Linked DNA regions of Homo sapiens: region 1 is linked to region 2. Evidence: fine-mapped expression QTL. A gene starts in region 2. The other region holds a variant in brackets. All regions are shown on one strand. Distances are between the middles of the regions.

Region 1 (5,371 bases), 200 kb after region 2:
CTGTAATCCCAGCACTTTGGGAGGCCAAGGCGGGAGGATCACTTGAGCCCAGGAGTTTGAGGCCAGCCTGAGCAACACAGCGAGACCCTGTTTCTATAGAAATAAAAAAATTAGCTGGACGTGGTGGTGCACACCTGTGGTCCCAGCTACTGGGGAGGCTGAAGGAGGAGGATCACTTGAGCCCAGGACTTCAGGGTTATACTGAGCTATGATCAAGCACTGTATTCCAGCCCGGGTGACAGAATGAGACGATGTCTCTAAAAAAAAAACAAACAAAAATGGATTTCTTTGCTACCAGCTTCACTGTGTGCTTTGTTTCAGAGATTGAGAACTCTTTCCAAAAACTGACTTCCCTAAAGTCAGCCTAGCCTCATATCCTCAAGGCAAGCTCATCCAGCTTGTATCAAGAAGTCCCCAGCCTGGCCGGGGAGCAGTGGCTCACGCCTGTAATCCCAGCACTTTGGGAGGCAGAGGCGGGCGGATCACGAGGTCAGGAGATTGAGACCATCCTGGCTAACATGGTGAAACCCTGTCTCTATTAAAAGTACAAAAATTAGCCGGGCGTGGTGGCGAGCGCCTGTAGTCCCAGCTACTTGGGAGGCTGAGGCAGGAGAATGGCGTGAACCCGGGAGGCAGAGCTTGCAGTGAGCTGAGATCACGCCACTGCACTCCAGCCTGGGCGACAGAGCGAGAGTCCGCCTCAAAAAACAAAAAAGAAGTCCCTAGCTTTCTCAAGCTGGCAGGAGAAGGACACACAAAAAAGTCTTCAGCCTAAATGACTTACTCTCCTGTGACTCCACAGCAAGAAAACTGGATGATTAACGTCAGTGACCTCATGGTGAAGAAGACAGCATTGCTAGTGATCTAAGTGGCCTTCAAGGGGGGCATTCCCCATTACCTGACAGCTAGGAGTGCTTGGAGCACACTTGGTTCAGCTCATGCCTCCTCGCAGTCTTCAAAGAGTTTGCTTCCCGTATTTGTGAGCTGAGCAGCCTAAACTGTTTGGTAGATATCCTGCCAGCAAGACCACAATGGCAGGGGATGGCAGAGAAGTCCCGCATCCAAAGCACCGTGGCCTGGGAACTCTGCAGGCATGCCGGCTCTGTTGCTGTGAGTCTAAACAGTTCTGCAAGGCCATCATCCAGTTGGCTGAGATCCAAGCCTGCTCAAAGCTAAAAAAATGCACAGGATCGGCTGGGTGCGGTGGCTCACACCTGTAATCCCAGCACTTTGGGAGGCCAAGGCAGGCAGATCACGAGGTCAAGAGATCGAGACCAGCCTGACCAACATGGTGAAACCCTGTCCCTACTAAAAATACAAAAATTAGCTGGGCATGGTGGCATGCACCTGTAGACCCAGCTACTCAGGAGGCTGAGGCAAGAGAATTGCTTGAACCTGGGAGGCAGAGGTTGCAGTGAGCCAAGATCGCGCCACTGCACTCCAGCCTGGCAACAGAGTGAGACTCCATCTAAAAAATAAAAAAATAAGAAAAATGCACAGGTTCCTCCTCCACCAGTATAGCCATCAATGTCCTGGCAGTAGGAAACTGCGCATCAGTGCTGGGACTGGGGAGGACACTACTCAGTATGCCACTGGGCGTCCTTCAAAATCCTAAACATGGGCCCATGGAACTTTTGGTGGCCCTGTGGTCTAGAGATTGTCTCCCAAATTCATCAGTTCTTGAGTTATAGGTACACTGGATAAGGATAGACAGCAATGGTCCTAAAGGCTACTATACCCTCTCTGGGCCCTCTCCATGCCTGTGACCATCACACCATCATGGTACAGGAGGGAGTATCCTAAGATGTCACGTTTCATCCCCCGTACTGGACCTTTCCACCTGGTGCCTGGTGAAATGCGTCAATTAAGTTCTAGAGAACGCTCTGCTTCCTGACCACTGGGAAACACAGGACACCACCCGCCTTTATTCTGCAAAATTTGCATAGAGTTCACTACATTCCCGTGTCTAAAACACACTGACACATCAGCCATGGCCTCCATTCCTTGTACCTTCTAAATCATCAACCACCGTATAAGCAAACGGCTAGGACCTTAAGTGCTTGCACCTAAGGGATGCAGATCAGAATCATCTGAGAAGCTTTTAGGCCAGGTGCGGTGGCTCATACCTGTAATCCCAGCACTTTGGGAGGCTGAAGCAGGCAGATCACTTGAGATCAGGAGTTCAAGACCAGCCTGGCCAACATGGTGAAACCCCGTCTCTACAAAAATAAAAAATAAAAAGTTAGTGAGATGGCATGCACCTGTAATCCCAGCTACTCGGGAGGCTGAGGCAAGAGAATCATGTGAACCCGGGAGGTGGAGGTTGCAGTGAGCCGAGATCGCATCACTGCACTCCAGCCTGGGTGACAAAGTGAGATCCTGTCTCAAAACAGATATTTCAGGCCAGGCACAGTGGCACACGCCTGTAATCCCAGCACTTTGAGAGGGTGAG[G/A]CAGATGGCTCACCTCAGGTCAGGAGTTCGAGACTAGCCTGGCAAACATGGTGAAACCCTGTCTCTATTAAAAATACAAAAATTGGCTGGGCGCAGTGGCTCACTCCTGTAATCTCAGCACTTTGGGAGGCCAAGGCGGGCAGATCATCTGAGGCTGGGAGTTCGAGACCAGCCTGACCAACATGGAGAAACCCCGTCTCTACTAAAAATACAAAATTATTCTGGTGCGGTGGCACATGCCTCTAATCCCAGCTATTCAGGAAGGCTGAGGCAGGAGAATTGCTTGAACCCGGGAGGCGGAGGTTGCAGTGAGCAGATCGCGCCATTGCACTCCAGCCTGGGCAACAAGAGCAAAACTCCGTCTCAAAAAAAAAAAAAAATTAGCTGAGTGTGGTGGCATGCGCCTGTGATCCCAGCTACTCTGGAGGCTGAGGCAGGAGAATCACTTGAACCCAGATGGTAGAGGTTGCAGTGAGCCCAGATCTCACCATTGCACTCTCTCTGGATGACAGACCGAGACACCATCTCAAAAAGCATACAAACAAACAAAAAGGCATTTCACCAGGTGAGTGAAGGGATGCCCTGCCCTGCCCTGCCCAGAGGAGGACTTAGAAGGGTTTGGTTCCTGCCCCAGTTCTGGTCCTTTGCTTAGCCAGCCCAGCCACCCTCAAAAGCCAGCCCTGAGCATCATCTGACAGCCCAAGCACCCTCCCTGCCTCCCAATTTGATCCTCACCTGATCAAAGTTTTCTCTTCTCTCCCTGGTTCCAAACCCTGATCCCATGTCTCTTCCTGGGTCTCTTATGAATGTGAAGCCCAGTTTGCTGAACAACTTCTGGCTCAGTTTCCTCCTCCAGATCTAATGAGAACTCCCTGATTCAGGCCCCCAGTTCTGAGGATTCCACTCCTCAATTCAGCTGCCAGAGGAGGCCCAACCCCCAGCGCCTTTGTAAGGGGTAAGGAGAGGACTAAATCCTTTTGTGCTTAGCATCTGTCACTCAGCAAGGTTTCTGATACACAGTTCCATGTATCCATGGGTGCATTATACTGATCAACTGTGCTTTGCTTTATCACATCCACGTTTTGAGCTTTTGGGACATTTCCAATCTGTTGCTATTATAAATAGCTCTGCGATGAACATCTTTATTTAAAATAATTTAGTTTCCTTTTGGATTATTTCCTTTGGACTGATTCCTAAACTCAAGATAAGTGGGTTGTTTATCTGCTCTTTTATTGTCTGACCCACATGTCTTTCCATTGGGAACAGCCCCTCCTACACTTTATGGCTCTGGTGTGCCTTATTTTTTATTTTTTATTTATTTTGGTTTTTTTTTGAGACAGAGTCTTGCTCTGTCACCCAGGCTGGAGTGCAGTGGCACGATCTCGGCTCACTGCAAGCGCCGCCTCCCAGGTTCACCCCATTCTCCTGCCTCAGCCTCCCCAGCAGCTGGGACTACAGGCGCACACTGCCATGCCCAGCTAATTTTTTTGTATTTTTAGTAGAGATGGGGTTTCACTTTGTTAGCCAGGATGGTCTCGATCTCCTGACCTCATGATCCGCCCGCCTCGGCCTCCCAAAGTGCTGGGATTACAGGCATGAGCCACTGCGCCCAGCCTTTTTGTTTTATTTTTGAGACGGAGTTTTGCTGTGTTGCCCAGGCTGGAGTGCAGTGGCACAATCTCAGCTCTCTGCAGCCTCTACCTCCTGGCCTCAAGGGATTCTCCTGCCTCGGCCTCCCGAGTAGCTGGGACTACAGGTGCATGCCAACATGCTCAGCTAATTTTTTGTATTTGTAGCAGAGATGGGGTTTCATCACGTTGGCCAGGCTAGTCTCGAACTCCTAGCCTCAAGTGATCCACCAGCCTTGGCCTCCCAAAGTGCTGGGATTACAGGCATGAACCACCGCACCTGTCCAGTATGCCTTGTTTTAAAGCAAAAGTCCCATCTCTCCTATCTCAGGAGTGAGCATGTGAACTAATCTATTCACAGTAGATTGATAACCACTAACTACAAATCTCAGTGGCTCAATAGAATAATAAGTTTATTTCTTGGTTATATCACAGCTCAATGAGGGTTTTTTTGGGAGGTTGTTGGGGGAGGACATGAGAAGACTTTCCTTTAAGCAGAAATCCAAGCTCCTTCCTTTTATCGCTTCCAGTGTTCTTTAGGGCTTCCTAGGAGCCCTTGATTAGACCTGAGAATGCATCCACCATGAACAAGCAAAGAGAGAGCATGGAAGATGGGGGAAACGGGGTGCATTTTAGGATCCAGCTCAGAAGCCGTAAGCCTCTCTTGTGCCACATTCATTGTTCAGAACTAGTCACATGCTTCCACCAGATGTGAGAGTGCCTGGGGAATGTAGTTTCTCCCGAGCCAGGAAGAAATGAAACCCTCTGGTCTACACATGGCATTGTCTTTGCCAGTTAGAGTACTTCATCCTTGAACATGAGGTTGCTCAGGAATGGGCATAGGACCTAGGCAGCTCTATCAGAGTCTTTTTTTTTTTTTTTTTTTTTTTTTTTTTGAGACAGAGTCTCATGTCGCCCAGGCTGGATTGCAGTAGCACAATCTTGGCTCACTGCAACCTCCACCTCCCAGGTTCAAGCAATTCTCCTACCTCAGCCTCCTGAGTTGCTGGGATTACAGGTGCTCATCACCAAGCCTGGATGATTTTTGTAGTTTTAGTAGAGATGGGGTTTCACCATGTTAGTCAGGCTGATCTTGAACTCCTGACCTCAAGTGATTCACCCGGCTTGGCCTCCCAAAGTGCTGGGATTACAGGCATGCGCCACCACACCTGGCCTCTATTCAGAGTCTTTTGAGGGGATTGTTGGATGGCTGTGGACTCGGGGAGACTTCTGAGGACTAGAGCTATGCAGCTCCTGTTGCCATGGAGCTGGCAGGGCGTCTTCCCCAGCA
Region 2 (5,309 bases):
CCAGACACTGCCCAAGACCCAGGACTGGACTCTGGCAGGTTCTTCCAGCTGGTGCCACCCCAGGAGCCTCTGGGAGCCCCTGGGAGCCATCCAGCCTGCTCCCTGCCTCTACATTTCAGGGTGTGGGTTTCAGGGCATTCACAACATTCCTGCAACAGAAGAGTTTCGGGAACACCCCCAATAGGTTCTGGGTGATTTGAATGTAATGGTAAGAAGGTATGTTAGAGATGTGGTTGTAACTGAGAAATCTTAAGCCTAGTGAATTTTATTCCACTTGACTTAAAGAAAGAGCACGTGAAAGAAGGGGATCTGAGGACATCTATAAACAGGGCCCCAAGGGCATGAATTTACTAGTGTTTATCTGGTCTTGTCTAGGGTCTGGAGACCCTGACTCTGGTATACCCAAGCTTTGCAGGGGCTGTAGAGGTTTACTCTTTTGGATGGAGAATATAATTCACTCCTCTAACACCTGAATGAGGGAAGATTAGCTCATCTCCTTAGCTGCAATTTGATTTAATGCTCAACAGGCAAATTTCTTTTCTTTTTTTTCTTTTTCTTTTTCTTTTTTTTTTTTTTTTTTTGAGACAGAGTCCTGTGCTGTTGCCCAGGCTGGAGTGTAGTGGCGCAGTCTTGGCTCACTGCAACTTCTGCCTCCTGGGTTCAAGCGATTCTCCTCCCTCAGCCTCCCAAGTAGCTGGGATTACAGGTGCCCGCCACCATGACTCGCTAATTTTTGTATTTTTAGTAGATATGGGGTTTTACTATGTTGGCCAGGCTGGTCTCGAACTCCTGACCTCGTGATCTGCCCACCTTGGCCTCCCAGAGTGTTGGGATTACAGGTTGAGCCACCGCACCCAGCCAGCAAATTTATTTTCTTTGATTTAATGCTCAACAGGCAAACTTCTTTCCTCCTCCTCCTCCTCTTCCTCCTCTCCTTCTTTTTTTTTTTTTTTTTTTTTTTTGAGACAGAGTCTCACTCTGTCACCCAGGCTGGAGGGCAGGGCAGTGGCGCCACACTGCAAGCTCCGCCTCCCAGGTTCACGCCAGTCTCCTGCCTCAGCCTCCTGAGTAGCTGGGACTACAGGCGCCCGCCACCACGCCCGGCTAATTTTTTGTATTTTCAGTAGAGACGGGGTTTCACTGTGTCAGCCAGGATGGTCTGGATCTCCTGGCCTCGTGATCGACCCACCTTGTCCTCCCAAAGTGCTGGGATTACAGGCGTGAGCCACCACACCTGGCCCTGCTCTCCTTCTTCTTCTTCTTCGTTCTCCTCCTCCTCCTCTTTTTTTTTTTCTTTTTGAGACAAAAGTCTCACTCTATCACCCAGGCTGGAGTGCAATGGCATAGTCTCAGCTCACTGCAACCTTTGCCTCCCAGGTTCAAGCGATTCTCCTGCCTCAGCCTCCTGAGTAGCTGGGACTACAGGTGTGTGCCACCACACCCTGCTAACTTTTTTGTAATTTTAGTAGAGACAGGGTTGCACTAATTTGGCCAGGCTGGTCTTGAACTCCTGACCTCGTGATCCGCCTGCCTTGGCCTCCCAAAATGCTGGGATTACAGGCGTGAGCCACTGTGCCTGGCTCCTCCTCTTTCTTTTCTTTCTTCTTCTTCTTCTTCTTCTTTTTTTTTTTTTTTTTTTTTTGAGACAGGGCCTCTCTCTGTCACCCAGGCTGGAGTGCAGTGGCACAATCTCGGCTCACTGCAACCTCCACCTCCTAGGCTCAAGTGATCCTCCCACCTCAGCCTCCCAAGTGGCTGGGACCACAGATGCGAGCCACCATGCCTGGCTAATTTTTGTATTTTTTGTAGAGACAGGTTCTCTCCATGTTGCTCAGGCTGGTCTTGAACTCCTGAGCTCAAGAGATCCTCCTGTCTCGGGCTCCCAAAGTACTGGGATTACAGGCATGAACCACCCTGCCTGGCCTCAACAGGCAACATTCTGATTAATAATTAGACCTCTGGGCCCGGCGTGGTGGCTCATGCTGTAATCCCAGCACTTTGGGAGGCCAAGGTGGGTGGATCACTTGAGGTCAGGAGTTTGAGACCAGCCTGGCCAACACGGTGAAATCCCGTCTCTGCTAAAAATACAAAAATTAGCCTCGCATGGTGGCATATGCCTGTAATCCCAGCTACTTGAGAGGCTGAGGCACGAGAATCGCTTTAGTCCGGGAGGCAGAGGTTACAATGAGCTGTGATATATAATGAAACAGTTTTACTAAGGAAGCAGTGACTTGGTTTCTCTAGAAATTGCCTAACACACACATTCCAGGATACATTCTCTGTCATCTGGAATCTCCCTTCCACAAACCCACGCTGTCTTAAGCACTATTTTCCTATTTGTTGTTGACCTAATCTAGAAAAAAGCTCCCGTCACTCGTTCTCCCCCACCCAGTCCCTCAGTCCCGAAACACGCTTATTCTCTGCACTTGTCACCCCACCCTTTGCTGCCCCCACCCCAGCGCGCAAACGCACACAGGTTTAAAGTTTAGGCTGTGATGCTCTCCTCGCCCGCAGATCACAGGACAGACATTCCCGGGGACAACTTTGCAAGGCCATGTGCTCGTCCTCCTTAGGAAGGAAGAGGGAGAAATCCCTGCGGCTCGGTTTTGTTCCAATGGTCTGCTCAGCGAGTGATTCCCGTTTCCCCAAAGGCTGCCCCTCATTAGCATGAACGGGGGTGGGGGTGTGGAGAAGGGGTTGGGGGAGAGAAAGCAAGCAAAAGACCAGGCTCACTTTTAGAGCCTGGGAACCCTGTCTGCAAAAATGACAGCTAGAGCTTTCTGGCTCCTCTGTTTGATCGTCGGATCATCCCCCGAAGCACCGGTGGCGGAGAGAAAAAGTAAGATTGGTGTAGTGCGGGGCCCTGGGAGCGGAGCGGGGATCTGTGGGGGGGAGCTGGGAAGGAGGCTCAGTGAAACGTGGGACGAGGAGGGGGGTCAGAGCTCGCAAGAGAGGACACCCCGGGTCTGCGTTCGTCTTATAAAGGAGCAAAGTGTGTCCCCAAGGTTTCGTGTCTCTTGGCAGCCTTTTCGGAAAGAAGCCAATTTAGCTACTGAAATGATCCCGAGCAAGCCGGGCAGGCTGGGGAAAACTTTGCATGTTAAGTAGTTGCTCCATCACGGAGGAGGGAAAGTGTCAAAAGGGGTCGTGGCGCGCCTTTCGGGAGCCGTGCCCGGGCCGGGCTCGCAGGACGCCGCGGGGTCCGCCCCCCTCGACTGGGTGAGCAGGGGCTGCGGGGGGCGCTGTGGAGGGCTGGGGGGAAGCGGGGCCGAAATCCGGCAGCCCCGGGCACTTTGCTCTCCCCGCAGCCCCAGCGCACAACCTTGGGACACCTGAGCCGGGGTTTAACTAACACGCACACACTCTTATACTTCATGCACGAAATGAAATTAAGTTACTCAGCCCGTGAAGAAATGAGGGGTTCTCTGGGGGATCGTGTTTTTGTTTTGCTTTTATTTGGATGTTCTGTCGGCTTCGCTATCTCTGGGAAAAACAGTTTCCGTACCTCACAGGGCAATTTACTCTGGGTTATTTTTCCACATGGAAATTGAATGACTTCAGTGGCATTTAACCCAAATATCAGACAATCTTTCCCATGACAACAGATGGTTATATCAATGGGGAAGCAGTTGTGAGGTCAACAGTTGACAGTCAGGAATTGGATATCCACCAGAACTTTATTCAGCTGTGCATGGCACAACCGTTTAACAACATAATGAGTCAGAATCAACCTCTTTGCAAAAACATGAACTCTAACCAGCTATTATTGCTGGGTGAAAGCTGATTTTAAAGCAGATTATCGATTTGGCAAGACTGATCAACTTTAAATGAAGTGTTGCCAGAGCTGCAAATGGGCAGATCCATCTCTTTAATGCAAGGGGAGAGAAAAATAAAGGCTAGTTCTTGCCTGTTTGGAGGGCACTGGGACCCAGGCAAGCAAGGAGGTGAAATTGTGTAACTGGTATGGAAAGGTGCCCAGCTCCCAAGCTGGCTGAGGTTTACTCACCAACCTGTCTGCAGAACTAGGGAAAATCATTAATAATTTTAAAAATTTGTTTTCATGCCATACCATTTAGGAGTCTTTCCTCCATCATCTAATGGGGAAAAAAATGTAAGCGACGTGTGCTTTTATACTTAACCAGGGGCCTCTCTGCCTCCCAGCCAAGCTTTTAAAACCTTCCTTAGCTGTGGTTTACCAGTAAGTGGTGTCCAAGAAGCCAGATAAAAATCCACTTACAAATGCTCGATTCTGCAGAGACCGGGATGACAGTGTAAACATGGATGGGAAAACCAAATAGTTCTGTTGTCAGGGGCGCTTAAAGAATTAGGAGAACCTGTAATATGAGACCTTTCCCCCTGGGGTTTGCTCTTGGTACTTTCTCAACAAACTGTAAATAGCAAAGAGGCGGATGTTTATATATGTTTTATATATATATATATATATACACACACACACACACACACACACGCACACGCACACATACACACATATACGTATATATTAAAGGAAGGGCAAAAAAGTTTGTTATCTAACCAGTGTTGTAAGACATGTTTAGTCTTAGAGTAAATAGGGGGTTGTAATTTTAAAAGCTATAATCTTAGAGGTCAAGACCCTCGTATCCTTCTTCCTTTGGGGCCTGGGAAGCGCGTGCCCCGCTTGGCCGCGACGCTGCGTCCGGGTTCTCCCTGCTTCACTTCCAGGCCTCCGGGCCTCCCTCCCATCTCTCCTCTTGCAGGTGCCTGCGAAGCCTCCCTTGTCCTCTATCTCCTCTCCCCCTCCCAGAGCCCTTCTTCTGCAGCGCCCCTGCCCCACTAGCGGCCTCCTCCCCTCCTGGCTTCCCTTCCCCTCTCGGCCTCCCGTCTCAGCCTCCCCTTCCCTCTTCTTCCTTCTCGGCTTCCTCGGCTTTCCCCGACGGCCTCCCCTCACTGCTTCTCCTCCCCCACCGCCTTCCCGCCTCTCCTCTTCTCTCCCCACAGCCTCGCCGCCGCACAGCAGAAAGCCGGACTCCCGCGGCTGCCCGAGCGCGGAGGAGACACCGGGGCCCCGCGCGCAGCCACTCCTTGAGGCCCCGCAGCGGCCGCGCGCGGCCGAGGTCGCTCCCGCCGCCCGCGCCTGGCCTGACCCGCGCCGCCGGAAGCCCCCACCGCCGGCCGACAACCAGGCCAGCTTCCGGGAGGCCGCACGCGCGCCCGCTGGCCCGCCGGGCCCGCGCCTGGCGCAAGCCGAGAACCGCGCGTCGCCGCGCCGCGAGCCCGCGTCGGAGGACGCCCCGCGACGCGCGCGCTCACGGGCCCTGCGCTTCCCCGCC

Evidence for each region. PIP is the estimated chance that this variant, and not a neighbour inherited with it, causes the effect.
Region 1: its variant is fine-mapped to the expression of C17orf58 in whole blood (TOPMed, PIP above 0.99). The same link has a PIP of 0.9 or more in blood mononuclear cells.

The regions. Positions count from the first base shown.
Region 1 is chr17:67,795,041-67,800,411 of GRCh38, reverse strand. No RefSeq gene overlaps it. Among named protein-coding and RNA genes, the nearest start is that of BPTF, 28 kb to the left of the region's middle. The variant G/A (reference allele first, on the strand shown) is at 2,453.
Region 2 is chr17:67,993,653-67,998,961 of GRCh38, reverse strand. It overlaps C17orf58 (chromosome 17 open reading frame 58), which reads left to right and starts at 2,493. Exons shown (of 4, transcript NM_001382359.1): 1 at 2,493-2,839; 2 at 4,978-5,309. The coding sequence starts at 2,764. RefSeq lists silencers at 3,174-3,263, 5,018-5,277.